2 separate regions of the Homo sapiens genome follow, and region 1 is linked to region 2. The links come from fine-mapping of genetic effects on gene expression. A gene starts in region 2. The other region holds a variant in brackets. All regions are shown on one strand. Distances are from middle to middle. Region 1 overlaps PPP1R12B (protein phosphatase 1 regulatory subunit 12B). Region 2 holds the start of CSRP1-AS1 (CSRP1 antisense RNA 1).

Region 1 (12,709 bases), 850 kb after region 2:
AGGTGGAAGGATCACTTGAGCCCAGGAGGTTGAAGCTGCAGTGAGCTGTGTTCACACCACTGCACTCCAGCCTGGGTGACAGAGCAGAGCAAGACTGTGTCTCAAATAAATAAGTAAGTAAGTAAGTAAATATCCTGTAGGTATCTATGTGACTCAAGGCTAGTCACTTTCCTATCTATGCTCCAGTTTTCTCATATTTGAGACAAGAGACTTGATTTTAGCATAAAGGTGAGAGTTGAAGTAATGAGTGTGAAAGAGGAAAGGGAGAAAACATACAGAGAAGAGCAGAAAACACAAGCAGCTGGTAGGCAGAGAATGCAGAAATTCAAGTTAGAGCTGTTGGAAGATGTGGTAGGCTGACTAATGGTGCCCCAAAAATGTCTAAGTCCTAATCCCCAGAACATGTAAATATGTTACCTTACAGGGTAAAAGAGACTTTGGGGATATGATTAATTTAAGGATCTTGAGATAAGGAGATTAGCCTGGATTATCCAGGTGAGCCCAATATAATCACAAGCATCCATATAAGACAGGCAAGAGAGCAGAATCAGAATAGGAGATGTGATGAAGGAAGCAAGAGATTGCAGGGATTCCAGGAAGGTTCTGTGAGCCAAGGAATGCAGGTGGACCCTAGAAGCTGAAAAAGGCAAGGAAGTGGATTCTTCTCTCAGAGCCTCCACATAAGGAACCAGCCCTGCCAGCAATTTGACAACTCAGCCCAATGAGACTGATTTCAGACTTTTTTTTTTTTTTTTTGAGACTGAATTTTGCTCTTGACCCCTAGGCTGGAGTGCAGTGGCACAATCTTGGCTCACTACAACCTCCGCTGCCCGGGATCAAGCGATTCTCCTGCCTCAGCCTCCTTATTAGCTGGGATTACAGGCGCCCACCACCACAACCAGCTAATTTTTGTATTTTTAGTAGAGACGTGGTTTTGCCTTGTTGGCCAGGCTGGTCTCAAACTCCTGACTTCAGGTGATCCACCCGCCTTGGCCTCCCAAGGATTACAGGTGTGAGCCACTGGGGATTACAGTTGTGAGCCACTGCATCTGGCCATGATTCAGACTTCTGACCTCCAGAATGCTATGATAATAAATTTGTGTTGTTTTAAGCAACTAAGTTTATGGTAATTTGTTATAGCAGCAATAGGAAACTAATACAGAGAAGAACCGACAAACAGTGATATTGAGGTATTTCAAGGAATGGATGGTAAATAATGTAAAAGGAAATTGAGGAGAAGGCCTGTAAAAAGACTGTTGGATTTGGTCATTTAAACTTTGAAAGAGCACTTTCAGTAGAGATATTTTTGAAGACTTTTGTGGAGGTTATATGAAGTTTTTTTTTGCATTAAGGATAACTTGTCTTTCTGTTGACTTTTGGGAGAAAAAATATAGATTTTCCATCAATATAATTGTAATTTAAATGAGGGCCCAAAATATGTGGCAAGACACTTTAAAAGCTGAATTCTGGCTAGTTCAGGTGGTTTCATTATTCATCAGTTAAGAATATTTTAGGATATTAAACCTGATAATAGGGGCAAGAAAGTTATGTCCCTATTACTGATGGCTGCTTATCTAGTTTATTTTACTTCTCAGTCTAGTTTGGCCCATTTCCCACTCATTAGCACTTCCACTGGAAGGCAGCCTTGGGGGAACAGTGATAGGGAGGTTAGTACCAATAAACAGTTTTTTCTGCCATTCTCTTACATTTATTTCTTGAGTGTCTACTGTGTATCTGATTCTGTGCTGCTTGTTACTTTTACTTAGCAGTAGATACAATTTAGAAACTAACTTGAATTTTGGGATTGGTCTCCAGAATAGTTGGTTACTATTATAACTTATAATAGGAAATTGGCTACATAACCGATTTCTGTTCTAGCATTCTGGCTCTTGAGGAGTGTCAGGGGAGTACTATATTTATCAGTATTTGAGACTATTTTATGCTTATGGAGGAGAATTACATATATATCTTCTCTAAGATGGTGAAATATGGAGGTTTGGGATGTCTAATAAATCTTTAATGGTTCAACATAGTAATAATAAATCCAGATTAAGACCTTGGCCCAGAATGTCATATAGGACAAGGAATTGAAGCCTCATTTGGATTGCTAATTGAGTGCTTGCCCAATTTGTTGATGTTGTTTTTGTCTGTGAATATGTTGGGGTTTTTCCTGCTTTTGAAGTGTCATTTAAAAAAATTGTTTCTTCTGATCTTAGATTGTAACCAGTTTGAGTAAAATTTGGGGGCTTAAAGTTTTATCAGGCATGCAGAGTTTATGTTTGTTTCATGAGGCAATTCAATTGAAAAACTGAAGCTTTGCCCAGGCGCGGTGGCTCACGCCTGTAATCCCAGCACTTTGGGAGGCCAAGGCAGGCAGATCACGAGGTCAGGAGATTGAGACCATCCTGGCTAACACGGTGAAACCCTGTCTCTACTAAATATACAAAAAATTAGCCGGGCGTGGTCGCACGCGCCTGTTGTCCCAGCTACTCGGGAGACTGAGGCAGGAGAATCACTTGAACCCGGGAGGTGGAGGTTGCAGTGAGCCAAGGTGGCACCACTGCACTCCAGCCTGGGTGACAGAGCGAGACTCCGTCTCAAAAAAAAAAAAAAAAACTGAAACTTGAGTTTTCAGTATTGGAAATTGACTTGCATGTGGTTTTTAATGAAATATTCTACTTCATTATAGTTATGGAATAGGTTTATACAAAAATTTAGAGATGATTTTATATTTAGTATACTTAAATGTTATGACACAGTGATAATCTGTTAGAATATTAATCTAATGCAAATTTGGGGAATATTTTATGGTGCCATGCTCTAAATATTCATGATATATCTGGCATGATATATGTATCTGGTTTTTCTGTATTAATTATTGGTCTAGTGACTCTCTTTTAAGCATTTTATTATGGAATATTTCAAAATAGAAGATACAAAAGTAGAGAGAATGGTATAATGAATTCTCAAAAGTGATCAACTTATGGCCAATCTTGTTTCATTTATAGATCCTCATCTCCAGTATACTGGATTATTTTATAGCCAATCCTAGATATCACATAATTTTTTTTTTTCTTTTGAGATGGAATTTCACTCTTGTTGCCCAGGCTGGAGTGCAGTGGTGCGATCTTGGCCCACTGCAACCTCCACCTCCCAGGGTGTCTCAGCCTCCCAAGTAGCTGGGATTAGAGGCATGTGCCCCCACGCCCGGCTAATTTTGTATTTTTAGTAGAGACAGGATTTCACATGTTGGCCAGGCTGGTCTCAAATGAACTCCTGACCTCAGGTGATCCACCTGCCTCAGCCTCCCAAAGTTTTGGGATTACAGTCATGAGCCACCGTGCCCAGCTTATATTTTATTTGTAAATATTTCGATATATATCTCTAGAACGTAGAAATTTAAATTAAAAAAAAATCAGCTGGGCGTGGTGGCTCATGCCTATAATCCTAGCACTGGGAGGCCAAGGCAGGTGAATCACCGGAGGTCAGGAGTTTGAGACCAGCCTAGCCAACATGGTGAAACCCTGTCTCCACTAAAAATACGAAAAATTAGCCAGGCGTGGTGGCGTGTGTCTGTAATCCCAGCTACTGGCGGTGGGGGGTGGGGGTGGGGGGCGGTGCTAAGGCAGGAGAATCACTTGAATCCGGGAGGCGGAGCTTGCAGTGAGCTGAGATCTCGCCACTGCACTCCAGCCTGGGTGACAGAGTGAGACTCTGTCTCAAACAAAAACAAAAACAAAAACAAATTTCATTGGCACACCTAAAAGTCAAAATCTTGTTTCTTAAAATTATATTTTAGTAGTGTTTAAGTTTCCCTGATTGTTCACAGGTGTGTGTGTGTGTGTTTTAACAGTTGGTTTATTCAAGTCATGATTCAAATAAGGTCTGTTTTGATTGATACGTATTTTAATCTATGGTTTCCTCCTCATTTTTTTTCTCTTACCTTATTTGTTGAAAACCTGGGTTGTTTGTACTTTAGAGTTTCTCTACAACCTAGATTTTTCTGACTGCTTGCTTGTGGTGTTAAGGTGTTCTTTTGTCCCACGTGTTTTCTATAAACTAGTAATTAGAGATTAGGTCTGATTCAGATTCCAATTTTTTGGTAAGAGTACATCATAAGTGGTGGTATGTACTTCCATGAGAAGGCAAATAATGTCAGGTTATCTCTCTTTGTGATTTAGTGGCCATTGATGGCCTGCAAAAATTTTGAAGTTTCAAGCCAGTCTTGACTAGACCTGAATTCCATTAATTAGTGAATTATTCTAATTATCATCACATCACAAGAAGCTCCTTGTATTGCGCTTCTAATTGGGTTACCAGTGATCAGCTTAAAAAATGTAAATTGGCCGGGTGCAGTGGCTTACACCTGTAATCACAGCACTTTGGGAGGCCGAGGTGGGAGGATCACCTGAGGTCAGGTGTTCGAGACCAGCCTGCCAAACATGGTGAAACCCTGTTTCTACCAAAAATAAAAAATTTAGCTGGGGCTGGTGGTGGACACCTGTAATCCCAGCTACTTGGGAGGCTGAGGCAGGAGAATCGCTTGTACCTGGGAGGTAGAGGTTGCAGTGAGCCGAGATTGCACCATTGCACTCCAGCCTGGGCAACAAGAGTGAAACTCCGTCTCAAAAAAAAAAAAAAGTAAATTGTGAATAAAATAGTTAACATAGGTTTAGTGTATTGACTGTTGCAAGGCTTGACAAGGTGCCTAATGTTGAGATTAGTAGTACCCTTCGTATGTAAATATTTTCCGTGATTGGCAGTGGAGTAAACTTTTTCTACTGTCATTTCATATCTTTACCATTAGCTCTTTTTTTTTTTTTTTTGAGACGGAGTCTTGCTCTGTCACCCAGGCTAGAAGACAGTGGCGCGATCTCGGCTCACTGCAAGCTCCACCTTCTGGGTTCATGCCATTCTCCTGCCTCAGCCTCCTGAGTAGCTGGGACTACAGGTGCCCGCCACCACACCTGGCTAATTTTTTTGTATTTTTTTAGTAGAGACGAGGTTTCACCGTGTTAGCCAGAATGGTCTCGATCTCCTGACCTTGTGATCCGCCCGCCTCGGCCTCCCAAAGTGTTGGGATTACAGTTGTGAGCTACCGCTCCCGGCCTCCATTAACTCTTAACTGAAGTTCCCTATATTAGTCTGTTTTTGTTGCTATAAAGGAATACGTGAGACTAGGTAATTTATAAAGAAAAGAGGTTTAATTGGCTCACAGTACTGCAGGCTATACAGGAAGCATGAGGCCAGCATCTGCTCATGGTGAGGGCCTCGGGAAGCTTACAGTCATGCAAAAGGCAAAGGGGAAGCAGGTGCATCACATAGAGCAGGAGAAAGAGAGAGAGGTGGGAGGTACCATACTCTTTTAAACAATCAGATCTCCTGTGAAGAGAAGAACTCACTCATTGCCATGGAAAGGACACCATGCCATTTATGAGGGAGCTGCCCTTGTAATCCACACATTTCCCACCAGGCCCCACTTCCAAAATTGGGGATCACATTTCAACATGAAATTTGGAGGGCACAAATATCCAAACCATATCATTCCCCTTATTTTGAAATATTGTTCAGAATTCCAGTTCAGTAATATGGTTTCTTATTCCCTAAGTCAACTGCCAGCCCTTGAGGTCCATTATGAAAGAAAACTTCAAAGGGAACGCTCCAAAGAAAACTAAAAAAAAAATAGTAACTTGGCGGTGCAAGGAGAAGAAAGAGACCTGCTTTATAAGAGATAGGAAGAGTGTCCATTCTAGCTACATCAGTTTTGGGCAGTCAACTGTGGGCAAATGATGTGCTTGTCTTAGAAAATGGAAGTGACATTGGGGCATTCATATGGAGATTGGGTTGATTGGCTGGCTTTTGTTGTGCTCTTTGAGGCCTAAGAGAAATTGGCCCTTCTAATTGAATGTGAATTTCACAGTGGGATGTATGGTTTTATGAACTGTTTTATTTATATGCGGGCATTTCAGGGGAGGCAGATTACTTTTTTTTTTTTTCCTGCTTCTTGGCAACATTTTTGCCAGGTTTCTTTTTTTAGTTAGTGATTTTTATTTTTTTTAAAGTTGGTTGGTCTAGCGATGAAATGTGACGTTAAAATGCCAAAACAGATTGTGTTTGGGTCCTGTGGATGCAGCTTCACTGTTTTGTAATTATTCCTCTTGTATTGATTTTCCTCCCCATGTTTAAATTGTTCCTCCTTGACAGTAGATAGCATGAAAAATGAGGTCAAAAGAATAACTCACCTCATTATAAATCACTAGGGGTAATGGAAAGTGATTCTGAAGGATGACCAGGATTCCTTCCATCTGTTAAGAATCATTTC[A/G]CCTGTTGAAGAGTTCCTACAGCACAAGGACTCTAGTGGTGAGCCGCATCCATTCCAACTTCACAATTGCCGTACAGGGCTAGTATTAGGAGAATTTGACTGCTAGAACTCTAAGTGCTTAACAGGTATTTTTTAAAGCAGGCAACATCTTTATCATTGGCACCAGTTTTCAGTTGAGAGTGGAGACTGCCTTGCTTCAGCTCTGTGTGTGCTATAGCCAGTTCATGACAGAATCAGCAAGGCCCAGGGTTTTTGTTTTTTTTTTTTGTAATAAGGAAATAACTTTGAAAAATTAAAATTATAAATTTAATTTTTCTGCTCATTACCTAAATTATTGCAAGAAGATTATCTTCATTTTTCTTAATATCAAGATAAATGTTCTGTCCTGTCTCTATAATGCACTTCTGTAGTTTGAATGTTTATTTATTTATTTATTTATTTATGTTTGAGACAGAGTTTCCCTCTGTTGCCCAGGCTGGAGTGCAATGGCACGATCTTGGCTCACTGCAACTTCTGCCTACTGGGCTCAGGTGATTCTTGTGCCTCAGCCCCCTGAGTAGCTGGGACTACAGGCATGCACCATCATGCCCAGCTGATTATTGTATTGTTATTGGAGATGGGGTTTCGCCATGTTGATCAGGCTGGTCTGGAACTCCTGGACTCAAGTGATCCACCCATCTTGGCCTCCCAAAGTGCTGGGATTGCAGGCATGAGCCACCATATCCAGCCTGTAGTTTGAATCTTTAAACAGTCAAATGATCTGTTATTAATTTTGGGGGGCACATTTGTATTGAGCACTTCCTGGATGCCAGATGCTGTTGTATACTGGGATACAAACATGGCATACAACTGTGTCTTGCTCTCAGGCATCCCACAGTTACTGACAAACTCATAATTTTAAAGATCTATTCTGGTCTATATTGCTTGTACTTCATGTTGATTCCATTTCCTATTAATCTGTTCATAGTAAAAGTGGAGAAAAGGGTATTGATCATTATCTACACATTTACCTTTGTATGTTTTAAGATAATCAAGACCTTGTCATTAGCCTTCTCTAATAAGGATAAACATGTGCATTCTTTAATTTAGTTTCCAAATCATTAATCGTTTTGTCTATCTCTCCTGGGAATTTCTAGTTCCCTTTGGGTCCCCTGGCTCTGTGAGAAGAGACTGTAATGTCTTCAGCTCTGGGGACCACCACTAGGGTGAAAGACTATTATAGGACCACTTGAAAGTACAGAGTTGCAGGACTGTCAGATATGCGTTTGTTTTATTAGAAGATTATGAAGTTCCAGGATATTATAGCAAAAAGAACATTAGAGGACACCATTTGACCCACCTGTGCCATTTTATTTTATTCTATTTATTTATTTAGAGACAGAGTCTCCTGTTTGTTGCCCAGGCTGGAGTGCAGTGGTGCGATCTTGGCTCACTGCAGCCTCTGCCTTAGGGTTCAAGTGATTCTCCTGCCTCAGCCTCCCAAGTAGCTGGGACTACAGGCACACGCCACCATGCCCAGCTAATTTTTGTATTTTTAGTAGAGACGGGTTTCACCATATTGGCCAGGCTGGTCTCGAACTCCTGTCATCAAGTGATATGCCTGCCTTGGCCTCCCAAAGTGCTGGGATTACAGGTGTGAGCCACCATGCCTGGCCCATTTTATTAATACAAATGAGAAATATGAGGCCTAGAAAAAAGCTAAAGGAATACCTTAAGCATGGTACAGAAATAAGATATAATGAAATGTTCTATTTATCAAACTTCTGCTTGATATTCTTTTCTGTCTATGGAAATGTAGTTATTTGCAAATTATTAGTACTTTGAGAAGAAGCAAAATGTGCTCTAAATTCTTTTGAAGAACTTTTGAAGAAGGATGATACCTTATAGTTGTATTCCTCTTTCAAAAACTTCAAAGTAATAGAAACATCAGGGGTCATTATTCATGTTCCAAGATAACTAATCTAAGGATTCTATTAAGAATTGGTTTTACATTTGACTTATTCATCTCTATATGTATCTACTACTAAGCAACATGATAACATTGCAAGGTCTTACTCTGTCACCCAGGTAAGAGAGCAGCGGCTCAATCATGGCTCACTACAGCCTTGACTTCCTGGGCTCAAGCATTCCTCCTGCCTCATTTTTTAATTTTTTAATTAATTTATTTATTTTTATTTATTTATTTTTTTTGAGACGGAGTCTTGCTCTGTCACCCAGGCTGGAGTGCAGTGGCATGATCTCGGCTCACTGCAAGCTCCGCCTCCTGGGTTCACGCCATTCTCCTGTTTCAGCCTCCCGAGTAGCTGGGACTACAGGCGCCCGCCACCATGCTCGGCTAAGTTTTTGTATTTTTAGTAGAGACGGGGTTTCACTGTGTTAGCCAGGATGATCTCGATCTCCTGACCTCGTGATGGGCCCGCCTCGGCCTCCCAAAGTGCTGGGATTACAGGCGTGAGCCACGGCGCCCGGCCTCATTTTAAAATTTTTTGTAGAGATGTGGTCTCACTGTGTTGCCCAGGCAGGTCTTGAACTCCTGGGCTCAAGCAGTCCTTCCACCTCAGCCTCCCAAAGTGCTGGGATTGCAGGCATGAGCTACCGCACCCAGCCAGCAAAATTTTTTAAAACAAAAAACAATTAGTACAAATACCACCCTAACATATTAATTGGTTTTTTTTCCTTTGTTCTTCCTCAGGCTGTCTTAGCTTTTGCAAATATTTTAACATAGTTGAACTCATGGTATGTTAAAATTACCATAAGTACTGTGGCCAGCTTTAGTGGCTCATGCTTGTAATTCCAGCACCTTGGGATGCCAAGGCGAGAGGATCACTTGAGGCCAGGAGTTTGAGACCAGCCTGGGCATTTTTAGAGACAGGGAAATCCTAAGTCTAAAAAAAAAAGCCAATTGTGGTCGCCTGCAGTTGTGGCTACTCAGGAGGCTGAGGCAGGAAGATTGCTTGTGCCAGGGTGGTTGAGCCAAGATTACACCACTGCATTCCAGACTAGGCAACAGAGTGAGACAGTCTCTAAAAAAGAAAAAAAAAAAGTAATTTTTACTGAGTGCTGCTTTATACCAAGTGTTGCTATGCATTTTGCTTTTTAAAAATTATCTTTACATCAACAGCTCTACCAAATAGGTGGTTTATTCCACTTAATGATGAGGAAGAAGAATCAAAGAAGGTAATTTGTCCTAACCTAGGGATCACACGTCATGCTGGTATTTAAATTCACATCTGTCTGACTCAGAAGCTTTTAGTCTTCTACCTAGGTTGTGCTGGTTTTCTGAAATCCTGGCTCACCTCTCCATTTAGACCTCTTTATTTTTTTAAAAGCCTCTTAGCACCTGTAATGACAGCACTTTGGGAGGCTGAGGTGGGCGGATTGCTTGATCTTAGCCTGGGCAACATAGCAAAACCCCATCTCTACAAAAATACAAAAATTAGCTGGGCATGGTGGCATACCTCTGTAGTCCCAGCTACTCAGGAGGCTAAGGCGGGAGGATTACCTGAGCCTGGGAGTTTCGGGCTGCAATGAACTATGATTGCACCGCTGCACTCCAGCCTGGGTGACCGAGCAAGACCCTGTCCCTCCACTCCCGCCCCCCCACAAAAAAACCTCTTAGAGACATAGTTTTATAGAGATAGGATTCTTTTAGCATTCCATTACTACTGAGATTTTTATATTATCAGAATTCTGCACCTACTCAGTGTGAAGTAATAGCTAAAGCATTGTTTTCCTACCTCCTTCATGTCATGGTATACACAGAAGACGACATTTGTGTAAGACCCCTGGTAAACTAGAGAATATTTGCAAATTTGGTATAAAAATTCATTGTTGCTGGGTGTGGTGGCTCATGCCTGTAATCCCAGCACTTTGGGAGGCTGAGGCGGGCAGATCACTTGAGGTCAGGAGTCCGAGACCAGCTTGGCCAACATGGCGAAGCTCCGTCTCTACTAAAAATACAAAAATTAGCCAAGCATGGTGGCACATGCCTGTAATCCCAGCTACTCGGGAGGCTGAGGCAGGAGAATTGCTTGAACTGGGAGGCGGAGGTTGCAGTGAGCCAAGAACGCACCACTGCACTCCAGCCTGGGAGACAGAGCGAGACTCCATCTCAAAAAAAAAAAAAAAAAAAAAAAATCAGTTGTGTTTTCTTAATACAGTAATGATAACAAAATACATTAAAAATCAGACATTGAGCAACAGAATAAAAATGTATGAATATTAAATAAATAGACTAAGAAACTACAAAATTATGTTTTATTTAGGAACACCTAATAATACCAGATGTATTAATAATGATGATGTTGATTATAATGCTTTTGATGACAAACATACATTTAGAAATTGTGGTGCTATTAGAGCAAATTAAATAGAAAACTTCATTTACATATGGGTGCAAAACGTAGAACCTCACTGATTGTTAAACAATGTAGACTAAAATAAAAATATAGACTAAAATGATTCAACAGGAAGATCAAGAGAAGGGGCTATTTCATGGAGTCACTGTACTGTGCCATGTGCATAGTTTTATGTACCAAAACTATGGTACTTAAGTGGTTCCATATAGTGAAGTCATGTGCATAGTTTTCTGTACCAAAATTATAATTAGGAAGTTTATGTAGAGAACTATATGAATTAAATATAACTTTACCCATCCTGAATTTTTAGTTGGTTGCAAAACATTTTTAATACAATACAAAATTTTATTCAGAAGATCTTTACATTACACTACTTATAAGCCATTTTAGAACAATAAATGATTGGGAAGATCTGATATAAAGCCTTTTAGCTCTAACGTATTGATAGTAAGCATTCAGTAAATATTGAGTATTGTTATGTTTAGTTAGTAAAGCAAAGTGGTTAAGATTATGAGCTTTGGAATCAGACATAGTTGGTTTCTAATCCTGGTTTTGCTACTTACATAAGCTTTATGTAAGCTGTCTGTGCACAGTGCCTTATTCTTAGTAGGCATTTAGGTGATTTTCTTTTAGACTAAGATGAGGATAAAAATCTTTAGTGAGTCTTACCGTGACCTACCAGACACTGTATCATCTGATCCCCCATTAGCTCTCAGTACTTGTCTTTCCCTTGTTCAACCCATTCCAGTCACATTAGTGTCCTCCTTGTTTCTCAAAAACTCCAGTTGCTAGGAATAGATGCTTAAGGGCCTCACATCTGTTTTTCCTTCTGCCTGGAATGCTATTCCATCAGCTACACACATGGCTTGCAAATGTCACCTTTGTAGTGAAGCACTTCCAGGCCATGATATCTAAAAATTTCAGATGAACTTTCCTCACCTTCTCATTTTTTTAAATTGAGGTAAATTTTACATATAGTAAAATGCATAGAACTTAAATCTACAGTTTGATGGGTTTTGACAACGTATACAACCATGTAACCAATATGGTTTGGATATCTGTCCCCCGCAAATCTCATGTTGAGATGTAATCTGCAATGTTGGAGGTGGGACCTGGTGGGAAGTGTGTGGGTCATACGGGAGGGTCCCTCATGGTTTGGTGCTGTTCTCAAGATAGTGAGTGCAGTCTCAGGAGATCTGTTTTTTTTTTGTTTTTTTGTTTTTAGAGACGGAGTTTTGCTCTTGTTGCCCAAGCTGGAGTGCAGTGGTGTGATCTCAGCTCACTGCAACCTCCGCCTCCCAGGTTCAAGCGATTCTCCTGCCTCAGTTTCCCGAGTAGCTGGGATTATAGGCGCCTGCCACCACACCCGGCTAATTTTTTGTATTTTTAGTAGAAACAGGGTTTCACCATGTTGGCCAGGCTGATGTTGAACTCCTGACCTCAGGTGATCTGCCTCCCTCGGCCTCCCAAAGTGCTGGGATTACAGGTGTGAGCCACTGCGCCCGGCCAAGATCTGGTCATTTAAAAGTGTCTGGCACTGCCCCCCGCAACCTTGCTCCCATTCTCGCCCTGTGATGTGCTTGCTCCGCTTCGCCCTCCACTGTGAGTAAAAGCTCCCTGAGGCCTCCCCAGGAGCCAAGCAGATGTCAGTGCCATGCTTGTGCAGCCTGCAGAATTGTGAAACAATTAAATCTCTTTTTTTAATAAACTAGTCAGCCTCAGGTATTTCTTTATAGCAACACAAGAATAGCCTAATATGGTAACCATCACCCAAATCAAGAAATAGGACATTTTTGCCTCCTTTGAAAGTTCTACCCACCACCCCTTCATCCTCCCCCAGGCTACCACTGTTATAATTTCTATCATTCTAGAATTAGTGTTGGCTGTATTTTTCTTTTTTTTTTTCAAGAAATATTAACTATTCTTTATTTGATATATATAAGCCATATAAAATGCCTTTTAATAAGTTAAAAGAACCATTTTATTTTGAGATGGGGTCTTACTGTGTCACACAGGATGGGTTGCAATG
Region 2 (12,709 bases):
GACCAGTCATACGTCGACTCCACACTGCTAGATGTGGGCCAGCCATCCACATGTAGCTAGTCCACATATGGAAGGAGCGAGGCTTAAGAAGTACCATGCCAAATAGGGCCAGGAACTCCTGATTCATCTGCTAGCCCAGCGAATGAGTCTGGGACAAGTTACTTGCCCTTCTTTGGGGTTTAGCTCCCCCCAGCTGTCTGTGATGTCCCATTTCACTCTGTTGACCATCTCAACAGAGAACAGAGCTTGAATTTTCTACTGAATGGCTGGAAACACCTGGTCAGCTGTTTTCCTGAAACGGCTGGCGGCTAGAAGCCTGCTGTGTCTGCTGCTGCATCTTCCTAGCCTGGCTGTCCCATTAGGACTGTACCCAGATCCCCAGTTAGGACTGTACCCAGATCCTCAGCCTTGAGACAAGAAAGCCAAGGTGGCAGCTCTTACAGCAGCAGCAAAAGGAGAAGAAAAAGGTCACAGACTCTCAGTCACCCCAAATCTCATGAAAGTCAGGCTCGGCTGGGTGTGGTGGCTCACGCCTGTAATCCTTGCACTTTGGGAGGCTGAGGCAGGCGGATCACTTGAGGTCAGGAGTTCGAGACCGGCCTGGCCAATGTAGTGAAACCCCATCTTTAATAAAAATACAAAAATTAGCCGGGTATGGTGGCGGGCACCTGTAATCCCAGCTACTCCGGAGGCTGAGGCATGAGAATTGCTTGAAACAGGAGATGGAGGTTGCAGTGAGCAGCGATCTTGCCACTGCACTCCAGCCTGGGCAATAAAGCAATACTCAGTCTCAAAATAAATAAATAAATAAATAAATAAATAAATAAATAAAGTCTGGCTCAGGTGACAGGTTGAAGGAACCATCGCAGAGATGTAAAATCCCTAACTGCCAGCCACCAGTGTCTGAAGGCAAGCCCCTTCTTATCAAACCCTTCAAAACCATCCCATATCTTTATTTCTACAGTGGAAAAATCCCATCTCTCCCATTCCAAAATCATTTATTCCCTAGGGCCAAAGAGTGACTGACGGCACAGGGTTAAAGTCCCCATCCACTTGCTCCAGTAGAAACCTGTCAGATGTTTATCTAGCTCCCTCGCATTAGCTGAGCTGCTTGGTATCTGCCAGGTGGACAGGAGGGCTGGCATCCCTTCCAATCTGCAGCTCGGCTTTTGCCTCCACGCCCCAGTGTCCAGAGAGCAGCTGAGGGCAGAGAGAGGAGGGGGCTGGGCTGGTCAGGGCTCAGAGCCAAGTCTTAGAAGTGACACCTGAGAGCTCAGGAAATCAGCCTCTCCTGAAGCTCAGGGTCACGGGTAGGGGGAGAATGGCTGCCATGGAGATGGGGCAGGCTTGGCCTCAGCTTTCCATGTCCCACCTCATGTTTCCTTCAGAACCGTGCACATGACCCGCCTCTCTGAAAAGGTAACCAGCATCACTGAGCTACCATCAATCCAGGCCCCATGGGCCTCCAGAACTTGACTGTCATTCTAGGTCAGGAATCCTTCTCTCTATTGAATGAGCTTTCTCTTTTCAAATCCATGTCCAGTGGCCCTTGTGAGACTGTGAGCTGACAAGGGCGGTATATGTCTCTCCCTTTCCCCACTTGCCCCCAGTGCCTTCTAGAGCAGAGCTCCCTACTCTTGGAGTTCAGAAGTTTGCAGGGCGCAGTGGCTCATTCCTATAATCCTAGCACTTGGGGAGGCTGAGGTGGGTGGATCATTTAAGGTCAGGAGTTTGAGACCAGCCTGGCCAACAGCGTGAAACCCCATCTCTACTAAATATACAAAAAAAAAAAAAAAATTAGCTGAGTGTGATGGTGCACACCTGTAATCCCAGCTACTTGGGAGGCTGAGGCAGGAGAATTGCTTGAACCCGGAGGCAGAGGTTGCAGTGAGCCAAGATCGTGCCACTGCACTCCAGCCTGGGGGACAAAAGCGAAACTCTGTCTCAAAAAAAAGAAGTCTGAAGGTCAACACAGGTAGAAATGGAGGTCGATGACTTCTTTGTAGTATTTCAAAACTTCTACAGGAAATCCTGTATTATAATAAAGCCTCATAGACAAATTAACAGATGGGGTTTCCTTGCTTTTATCCAGATCTGTAATGATGTTGGTTATTCCATGCTGAACAAAATGGTCTGAATGATTTTTCTTTGATTAATTTTTTACAAGTTAAAACACATTAGCACTTAGGCCTTAAAAACACAGGTCGTTTGCAGCTGACATCCCAGGAAGCACCAACACACGCCACCCCTGCATAAAGAAAGCCAGGCACACAGTCGGGGGTAGGGGGTGCTGGCTGCCTAGCTGGGGCTGAGCTCCAGCTGCTAACCTTCCATTTCTTCCCCTGTTGTCACCGCTGAAGACTCAGACGCTGCCTTCTGGCCCTGGGGAAGCACTGGAAATACCAGAGTCTGGAAATGCTAGCTGCCCCCGTATTTACACACTTTACCATACATGGGAATTACTCAGTGCTGGCGTCAGACACATTCCTGGGTAGCTGCGTAGTACAGGCACGTCATTACCATATAAATTCTTGACAACTAGAAACAGCAGTCGGAACCCAGGACCCCTCCACCTCACCTTCTCTGCCCTCCCCTCAAGTTTTGCTAGCTCTCTCTTTCTCAAGCACGCTCTTTTCCAGGCTTGTTTTCTTTCTGCAAACCTGGCTCTGAAACTCAAACATGCAGAGCTGGTGAAAGCATATCCATTAGTGGCTGGGAACTAACTCTCAGGGGTCCCCTCTGCTCCTACCTGGCCATGCAACAGACTGAAAACCCGGAGGTCAGGAGTTCTAACCCTGATCCATCCAAGTGAAAGATATCTTCCTTAAATAGTTTATAAGCCACTGTAAAGCACCTTGTAAAGCTGATGTGTTTCACAAATGGCAGATATTTCCTTAGTGAGTTGATCTGGAAAAAGGAAATGTAGAGGAGCAAAGAAAAATAATAAGGTAGTGACTGAGCATACGTTTTGGAAACAGTCAGCTTATGTTTGAATGGCAGCTCCACAACTGATCAGCTGTGATCCTGAGCAAGTTTCTTACTACCTCTGAGCCTCAGTTTCTCCATTTGTAAAATGGAGAGCATCAGTAGCTACCTCATAAATTGTCCAAGATAACACATGTGAAGTATTTCTCACACTGTCTGGTACACTGCAAGTGCAGATATCTGGTTATCCTTATCTTAAGGAGAGGCCAACTCTAACACTTATCGTTCAGGTTTGTATCTCTTTTGATATTTGACAATATGCCCTGAGTAATGCCAAATGGCTGACTTGGAGGAAAAAGTCTTATTCTCACTAGCACCTCTTTGGATCCCAAAATATTTAACGCATGTGTCTTCATCTAGCAAGCCAACGTTTCACAATAAGCTAGGCTTACATACATATTTAAAACTTTAACAACCTGCCAGAAAAGCCTTCCCAATTTGCTTCCCACACCAGGGATGGACAGTGAATTAAAAACTATGTTGCTAGGCGCAGTGGGTCATGCCTGTAATCCCAGCACTTTGGGAGGCTGAGATGGTGGTGGGGACAGGGAGGGGATCACTTGAGGCCAGGAGTTCGAGACCAGACTGGCCAATATAGTGAGACGCTGTCTCCAAAAAAAAAAAAAACACCAGGCCGGGCGCAGTGGCTCATGCCTGTAATCCCAACACTTTGGGAGGCCGAGGCAGGTGGATCACCTGAGGTCAGGAGTTCAAAAACAGCCTGGCCAACATGGCGAAATGCCGTCTCTACTAAAAATACAAACAATTAGCTGGGCATATTGGCAGACACCTGTAATCCCAGCTACTTGGAAGGCTGAGGCAGGAGAATCGCTTGAACCCAGGAGGCAGAGGTTGCAGTGAGCCAATGTCACGCCATTGCACTCCAGCCTGGGTGACAGAGCAAGACTGCCTCAAAACAAAAACACACAAAAAAGCCCAAAAAAAACCTACGCCTTTTTTCTCTCACCTGCTTGTCAATCTACCCAAGTGGAAAAACTGGCTAGTAACTATTTGCAAGGTTTATGAGTATCCCGTAGGCCAACTCAGCTGAAAGACCATTGCTACCCCACTCATTCATCAAATGTTTGCTGATCACTCAGTCAAGTGTCACTACACTCCCAGGCTGCAACTCTGGCCCAGTCAGGACTCACTAGCTCCAGAGGCAGATGCACATGTGTGCAATTAAAAGAGCAAACACCTGGGCCAGGAAGGCAGGTGCTAAGACAGACCACAGGCAAATAGGCCACAGCACCCCTGTTTTTCCCATTTTATTAGCAGGCCAATTGCAGAGTTGATGGGCCTTCTCTTTAGTTTCTCTCCTGCTTCTTCTTCCCCATACCCTCCATCCTGGGCATCTCAGGCCTTGCAGACAGTTCTCTCCTCCCTCTCCTCTAACCCACACTACACCCTCTGCAGGATAAACTTCCTTCCTCGTCTGACTGCCTCCGCCCCGGATATCCTCTCCAAGGCAAAGAGTCATTCACTGGAAGACCGTGAGCAGGAGGAGGCTGGATTTAGGAAACAATGGGTAAAAGCTGCCCTCCAGCAGCTGAGGGCTGAGGACAGTCTCTCTCAAAAGAGGTAGCCAGAAACCAGCTGGAGAGTCAGGAGGCAGCAGTTGAGTGAGAGCAGTTGAGGGGAGGCTCAGTACCCATCCCCAAATCCCACCTGGGGAAAATCCCCAACATGCAGTCTGAGAGGACAGAGGGAGACAACCAGCACCTCCAGCCTCCTTAGCTTCTGGGAGGAAGGCAAGGGATGAGGGGAGGACAAGAAAGACAGTAACTGAGAGATCACTCCTGTGTTGGAGGTTCTGTGTAATATGCTCCCCAAGTAGCATCCCTGAAAGAAACTGAGACATTGAGAAGTTAAATAGTTTGTCCAAGGAAACCTGCGCGTTAAGTGGCAAATCCAAGAGTCAAAACTCTGCCTTCCAAACAATCCCACCAAGACTCCAAGCCACCTCTTCATGATATACTGATATACTTTCTACCAGGGCCCAGTGGATTTCCTCGGTGCCACTGTGATAGTATCCCAGCGTGGGGAGAGCCTGCCCATTCATTCACTCTCAGGGAGCAGCTGGTGGGTGGCTGGAGCCCAGGGCTCTAGGCAGAGCCTGAGCCCACTATTGCTCCAGCCGATTCCTGGGTCCTGGTTAGTTCACAACAGCACCAGAACCAGAAGCATGCAAAATATTCTCTAGTCTGTACCAGTAGATACAATACCTGCCTCAGAGGGCTGATTGTTAGCTAACACATTGTGATTTGCTTTAAATGTGCTCAATACCAGCCCCTTTATCACTTCCCAGCTTTCAAGGACTGAGGCCACAAAACACTGACTGCAGGCTCTTTCAGGTTTCAGTAACCATCACCACCTAGCACCAAGATTTGGAGTGGAGAGGTTTCCATGCAGTTATTTCACAAGAGGGAAAACTCACACCTGCGCTCAGGGACACAGATGTCCAAGGTCAGGCCCAGATGTTTGCCCCACCCCGCCCGCGGGCATTTTCTCCCCAGCAGGAGGGTGAGGGAGGGGGTGGCACGGATGCCCTCATCTCTCTGCCATACAATGAGCGTCAGTGGCGCGCAGAATCGCCGATTGTTCTGCCCGACTTGCAGGCGGTTGCGGGGAGCCGGGTCGCCCTGGGTCACGCACACGCGGAAGTCAACTGTGTCCAGGAAGCCCAGGAAGGCCCGGGATGGGGACGGACCTAGTGCCTCCAGAAAAGAGCAGCACTGCCCGGGCTAACTGCGGTCACTTCTCACAGTTCCCCGCCTGCGACAGCCCCGGGGCTGCGGCGGGGCTGGCAAGACCGGGAGGCGCTGAGTGCGTGCCCAGGCGCCCCTCCGCGGCGGGCAGAGCCGCGCGACTCAGGGCGCACTCACCTGGCAGCTGGCTCGGCGGCGCAGGGGCGGCAGGCGCTCTCGGAAGTGGCGGCTGGGTGCGCCCGGCCTGCGCGCCGTTTTGTTCCGCTCCGCGGAAGGCGTGTCCCGGGCCACGCCAACCAGTGGGCTTTGCACACTGCACCACTCCAGGGCTGATGTCATGGCGCGAAGCCCGGCGGTGCTGCCCTCCTAGGCCCCGGGAAGGCCGGCCGGCAGGGGCGGGGGCAGGAGTCGCCGACTCTGGGGGTGCTCCGAGCTCGTGCTGCGGTCCCACTGTGCGCCCTGTCGCCGCCACCGCGGAAAACGTCTTGCACGTGCGAGGGGCATTTCAGGAGTTTCCTGTCTGTCAGGTGAGAAGGCGGAGATATGACCTTAGAGGTCAGACCCATGATAAACTTGAGCCCCTAACGAAAGGGTGTCTCGAATTTACTTGTCCTGGTGGCAGAGGGTGAGGGACACATTTTGGGCGCCAGGGTAAGACAGACCCTTCCAGGGCAGGTCTGATTCTGCCCATCCACTCACTAGCTGGGCCCTGGGCCTAGACAGCCCTTCTGGGTTCAGGGTCATCTGTGAACGGCGTGTAATCTACAGGGATGTGAGGGGCTAAAAGGAGATCCGGTAGGACCCGCAGACCTTCAGCAGCACCCGGCATGTAATAGACACTCAATAAATGTAACTCCCCCCTCCAACAGCTCTTGCCCCTCAGTTTTTCCCAGTCTTCCCTGCTACCCTAAGGACAACACCTGGAAAAAGGTGTTCTCCCGCAAAAGCAGCAGTTCTGAAAAGTGGGTGCCTCCATAGAGGCTTTTCTCTGGGGCTCCAACCTTCAGTAGGACAGACACAGGCTCAGGCCACTCAAGCTGCCCCTGGGGCAGTTTCCAGGGGACATTCTGTCCACACCTCCTCACCCAGTCCCCAGCCCTTCCTGAGTGCCCCGTGCAGGCATTTCAGGGAGCAGAGAAGCTCACAGCCTCCAGCTGGTCACCCTACACCCCAGGTGGCCCATAGATGCAGCTGCTATGTCTTCCACCCTGGGCAGGTGTCAAGGGTTCAGGCCCCAACCGGCTTCACTTAAAGCCCTGGTTTGCTGAATCAACTTTTTGCCAGGAATAAAGTTAAGCATCTTATGATCTAGAAAATGAAGTATTTGGCCAGGCACTGTGGCTCACGCCTGTAATCCCAACACTTTGGGAGGCCGAGGCAGGCAGATTGCTTAAACCCAGGAGTTCGAGACCTGGTGAAACCCTGTTTCTACAAAAAAATTAAAAAAATTAGCCAGGCGTGGTGGTGTGTGCCTGTAATCCAAGCTACTCGAGAGGCTGAGGTGGAAGGATCACTTGAACTCAGGAGGCAGAGGTTGCAGTGAGCCAAGATTGCACCACTGCACTCCAGCCTGGGCGACAGAGCAAGAGTGTTTCTCAAAAAAAAAAGTGTTTATCTAGGTTTTTCTTGCTTTCTACCATAAGTAACATCTTTCCTTTGGCCAGGTCCATCCTATAAACAAGGCCCTCCAAGATTAAAATGTCTAGAAGCACACAACCAGTGTTTCTTGCAGATTGGGCCATCTTCATCTGACCCAACCAAGATGAAGGAGGAGAAACCAGAAGAATTTCTGGTCACGGCTGCACTGACTAAGCAATAGTTAAACAGGTCCATTAAACTGCAGAACCACCATCAGTGTCAGAGACCAAGGGCTTCCGCCCAAAGATGGCGATCCCATGGGATTTCCCCCTCTCCTTTCAATTCTCAGTATCTTGGAGAGATGAGCCTCGGAGTTTTGCCCAGGATTTTACAAAAGGGCAAACTCCTACATTACCTTCTTTGGTCTGGGTTTGTCCTCTCTGGAGTCATGGGACTGTTGATAGATTTCCCTGTGAGGACATGCCAACCTGTGCTGTGAAATGGCTTTAGGGTAGATCCAGAAAAAGAAGAGCAGTCACTGCAGTCACACTTGGATTTCTCCCAGATCTTAAAGCACCTTATAAACAGAATGGCTGTACAATGTGTCATCTAAACCAGAATGCTTTGGATAGTAAGTGGTATGTGGTAGTATTCGTAACTACACTAAGGCAACAGGACTATCTCAGGCAGTCCAGGGCAGATGGTCACCCCTCTTTTCCACCCAAAGACTGTCAGGTCACTTGTCTTAGGAGCTGTCTACGCAGAGCTACAGATGAAGCCAAGTAGGACCTGCCTTGTTTGGTGTTTTTCCAGAACCTCTCACCTTCTGACTATATTATTCTCCCAGCCTGCTGCCAGTTACTTGGGCTTGGTCTTAGATAGCACATTTGCAGATAAAGAAGACTTGAGGGATGAGGAAGGGCTTTGGGATTGAGTTGAGTCAAAGGTGATGCTGGGGTTACCCACCATGCAAACAGGAACAAGCCTGATGTTGAAATGACAGAAAAATCAGTAAACATCATCAATACTTGGGACATCCTTAAGGCAGAGATTCTCATTCTGCAGAGGTTCTCATTCTGGCTGACCTCATTTATATAACCATATCTAGACTGGCCCGAGCTGGTCAGCAGCACCCACATCTGCAGAGACAATGCAGTCAGAGCTCATCACCAATAAATTATCTGCTAGGGGTTCTAGAAGGAGGCTTGGCACACTTAGGGGCTTACCTGCTTCTCAGGACTCTCACAAATGTCTAACCTTTTCAGTATCTTTATGTTCTCTCTGTGCACTCTATTTCCCAACACTTCTGGGTTGGTATTTGATGGCTGCTAGGAATGAAGTGGGGCCTGTTACAGGCAGGAAGTAGGGCCCCTGTCCTCCAGCTTCCAACTTTGTCTGCTGCTTCCTCTGGCATCTTTTCTTCTCTTTCCTCCCTCATCAGCATCCTGATGCTACATCTTCTCTCTCCTCTCCTGTGGTGAAACCCTTCTTTTCCGCATTGATCCCAAGTGAAGAGGACCTGAGTGTGAGGCTGAGGAAAGAGTAAGGGAATGTGTCTGGCTTAGCTCTGCTCATCATCCCAGAGAAATTAGAGATCCAGTCTGGGCTGGAGATCTTCTTGTCCATCCTTCCATCCATCTGTCCATCCATCCATTCATTCATTCACCCATCCATCCATTTGTTCATCCATCTGTCTCTCCATCCATCCATCCCTCCCTCCATCCATCCATCCATCCATCCGTCCATCCACCTGTTCATCCATGTATCCATCCAACCATTCACTCAGAAGACATTTATTGGGGCCCCACTCTGTGCTGGTCTCTAGGTTCTGGGAATACAAGGAAGCCTATAATTTGGATCCTGACCTCAAGAAGTTTACTCATCTAATGGTCTAAAAAAAGAAAAAAAAAATCCAGCCCTAAACTTGCAGTTTGAGTCTCAGCTCTGTCATCTATGATTTAAAATACTAATGATGGCTGGCGCAGTGGCTCATGCCTTAATCCCAGCACTTTGGGAGGCCAAGGCCAGCAGATCACTTGAGGTCAGGAGTTCAAGACCAGCCTGGTCAACATGGTGAAACCCCATTTCTACTAAAAATAGAAAAATTAGCCGGGTATGGTGGCATGTGCCTGTAATCCCAACTACTGTGGAAGCTGAGACAAGAGAATCGCTTGAACCTGGGAGGTGGAGGTTGCAGTGAGGCGAGATCCAACCACTGCACTCCAGCCTGGGTGACAGAGTGAAACTGTGTCTCAAAAAAACAAAAAACAAATAAAATACTGTTGATAATGAGGAATAATTATAATTATTAAGCATTTACTACCTGTCAGGTACTTTACACAATTGTCCCCTTTAATCTTCGCAGTAGCTGTATGAAGTAAGGACTATTTTTACCCCCTGCTTTGCATGTGAGGAGACCAGGGCTTACAGCAGTAGCTAACTTAGTAGCTTTGTGACCATGGCCTAGGCCTCAGTTTTCCTCATGTGTGAAATGGGAGGTTGGACTAACTCAGTATTCTCCAAAATTTCCACTGAGGTACCTCTGACAGCAAAGAAGTAAATGTAAGGAACCCACAGTGTTGTCAGAATCAATCCACTCCCAGTCCTTGAAGTCTTGGGGTTTATTGCAAAAATTTATTTGAATTTTGCATTCTCCTTGGCACATAACTGTATTTGTCTTCATAAAAAGATAATGTTTAAAATGACTCACTGGCCAGGCACGGTGGCTCACACCTGTAATCCCAACCCTTTGGAAGGCTGAGGCAGGTGGATCATTTGAGTCCAGAAGTTTGAGACCAAGTTTGGCAACATGGTAAAACCCAGTCTCTACAAAATATACAAAAATTAGCTGGACATGGTGGCATGCTTGTAGTCCCAGCTACTAGGGACGCTGAGGTGGGAGGATCGCTTGAGCCCAGGAGGTAGAGGTTGCAGTGAGCCGTACTATACTCCACTGTACTCCAGCCTGGGTGATAAAGTGAGACCCTGTCTCAAAAAATAAATGAATAAATAAATAAAATTACTTACTGTTCAGAGAAATGGAGTTCTTAGGAAATGTATCGTGCTTGGTGGGTAGTATCTCTGTGGGCCCCTGGGAATATGACTAGGCCCGCCTACCCACGTGGGTGATCTGCAAGGCTCTCCCTGGCTCTGGCACTGTTCGGCTGTGCCTAGGCTAGGATGAGGCAAGTCAAAGGGGGCTTGTGGAATAAGGCCCAGCATTTGCTTTCAGTCCCTGTATTCATGTTTTCTAAGGAAGATTCCTAGAATCTCTCAGGGTTTGCTGGAGAAATGAGCTTGGCAGCCAGAGGCAAATGAAAATCGGAAAAGGCAGTGTATACATGTTATAAGAATAAAATGCTTAGAGGCAAGAAAAGGAGAAATCCATTTAGAAAGGAACAAAATAAAAACTCTAGGGGGTTCCTGATCCAGAAATCTCTTCTGATTTTCAGGCTGAAATTTACACTGTGAAGCTCCAGGGGAGCTTGAAAGGTGATATTCAGAAATGCACTGGGGTGGCTCAGGGTTGGGTCCTTAAGAACACTGTGAAACAGTCTAGATAGGTTTTTAAATGACCACTTCCTCTTCCCCTCCCCTTGGCCTGAAATTGATGTAAGGTCACTTCCCTCCTGCTCCCTCTGCAGCCACTGCCTCTGTCCCAAACAGGCAAAACTGTGGAGTGGCTCTCACAGCCAAAGTGTGGGGAGGGGAAAGCAGGAGGAGCTGGGGACTCAGGGCGGGAGCAGGCGGCAGGGAGCTCCCGGGCAGCTGGCTGTGCATGGCTCCACTGTTCCGAGCCTGACAGGCTCTAGGGAAGTGTGGCCACAGGGAGCTGGCTGAAGGCTCAGGAGAGGCTTTTCTGACAGGCCCAGTTCCAATCACGCCAGCTCCTAATCTACTGATCAGTTTGCTTTCCTCCTGCTTTAAAATCTCTTTCTCCCTGTTCTCCTGGTCCCTAGCCACACCACCTTCACTGCTCTGATCTTATCTATGATCACCTGGCCAATCTACTTAAAGCAGTGAAGTAGACTGAAAATAACCAGACTTTCGGCAAAACTCTTTTTTTTTTTTTTTTTTTTTTTTGAGACGGAGTTTCAGTCTGTTGCCCAGGCTGGAGTGCAGTGGGGCGATCTATGCTTACTGCAACCTCCACCTCCTGGGGTCAAGCGATTCTCCTGCCTCAGCCTCCCAGCCTGGGACTACAGGCATGCGCCACCACACCCAGCTAATTTTTGTATTTTTAGTAGAAACCCTGCAACACGGCGTTTCACCATGTTGGCCAGGCTGGTCTCAAACTCCTGGCCTCAGGTGATCCGTGCACTTCGGCCTCCCAAAGTGCTGGGATTACAGGCGTCAGCCACTGCACCCGGCCTTGGCAAGACTCTTGACTCCTCTCCTCCATCAGGGTCGATTATATTAAATTACACTGACAGAAGAAAGGATTGGATGACTTTTGAAGAACTATTTCAACCCAAAGACAAGCTAAGGAAACATTGAGTTCACTCACCTGGAAGGTCTTGGAGGGCAGGAATTGTAGCTTACCCTCCTTTGTAGCCACACAGAGCCTTACATGGAGTAGGTGCTCAGTATTTTATGAATGTGTGCGTGGATAAATCCATAGTTTGCAAGAAACCACGAATAAGCTTGCCACCTGCTGGTGAACTTGTGAAAGACACCTCGCCGCACCTCGGCTCCCCCAAGTGGCCATACACTGTAATCCTAAGAAAACCCTCAGCTTGGACAATCCTTTCTTTCCAAGGAGCCCTTTGTTACAGGAAGTCCCAATCCAGACCCCAAGAGAGGGTTCTTGGATCTCACGCAAGAAGGAATTCAGGGCAAGTCCATAGAGTAAAGTGAAAGCAAGTTTATTAGGAAAGTAAAGGAATGAAAGAATGGCTACTCCATAGACGGAGCAGCCCTGAGGGCTGCTTTTTGCCCATGTTTATGCTTATTTCTTGATTATGTGCTAAACAAGGGGTGGATTATTCATGCCTCCCCTTTTAGACCATATAAGGTAACTTCCTGACGTTCCCATGGCATTTGTAAACTGTCATGGCACTGGTGGGAGTGTAGCAGTGAGGACAGGTCACTCTCGTCGCCATCTTGGTTTTGGTGGGTTTTGGCATCCTTCTTTACTGCAAGCTGTTTTATCAGCAAGGTCTTTATGATGTGTATCTGGTGCTGACCTCCTATCTCATCCTGTGACTTAGAATGCCTTAACCGTCTGGGAATGCAGCCCAGTAGGTCTCAGCCTTATTTTACACATCCCCTACACAAGATGGAGTTGCTCCAGCTCAAACACCTCTGACAACTTGATACTTATTCATAAATCCTTTTGACTCTAACTCATATCCTACATTCTTAGCAGAGAAGCCAAAAATGTCCTAGGACACTAGTCAGTGAAAAAGGCCTTTGAAAGCCCTGGAAGCTGTTTTGCA

What was found. PIP is the estimated chance that this variant, and not a neighbour inherited with it, causes the effect.
Region 1: its variant is fine-mapped to the expression of CSRP1-AS1 in uterus (GTEx, PIP 0.95).

Annotation. Positions count from the first base shown.
Region 1 is chr1:202,356,083-202,368,791 of GRCh38, forward strand. The region is part of intron 1 of PPP1R12B (protein phosphatase 1 regulatory subunit 12B); the gene reads left to right. Among named protein-coding and RNA genes, the nearest start is that of PPP1R12B, 14 kb to the left of the region's middle. RefSeq lists enhancers at 2,804-3,755, 5,158-5,900, 5,901-6,642, 8,238-8,975. The variant A/G (reference allele first, on the strand shown) is at 6,323.
Region 2 is chr1:201,501,200-201,513,908 of GRCh38, forward strand. It overlaps CSRP1-AS1 (CSRP1 antisense RNA 1), which reads left to right and starts at 6,014. Exons shown (of 2, transcript NR_160747.1): 1 at 6,014-6,220. CSRP1 (cysteine and glycine rich protein 1) reads right to left here and starts at 5,924. Exons shown (of 6, transcript NM_004078.3): 1 at 5,871-5,924. LOC124904484 (a long non-coding RNA gene) reads right to left here. Exons shown (of 2, transcript XR_007066793.1): 2 at 8,525-8,802. RefSeq lists silencers at 5,626-6,255, 10,787-10,866 and an enhancer at 11,017-11,226.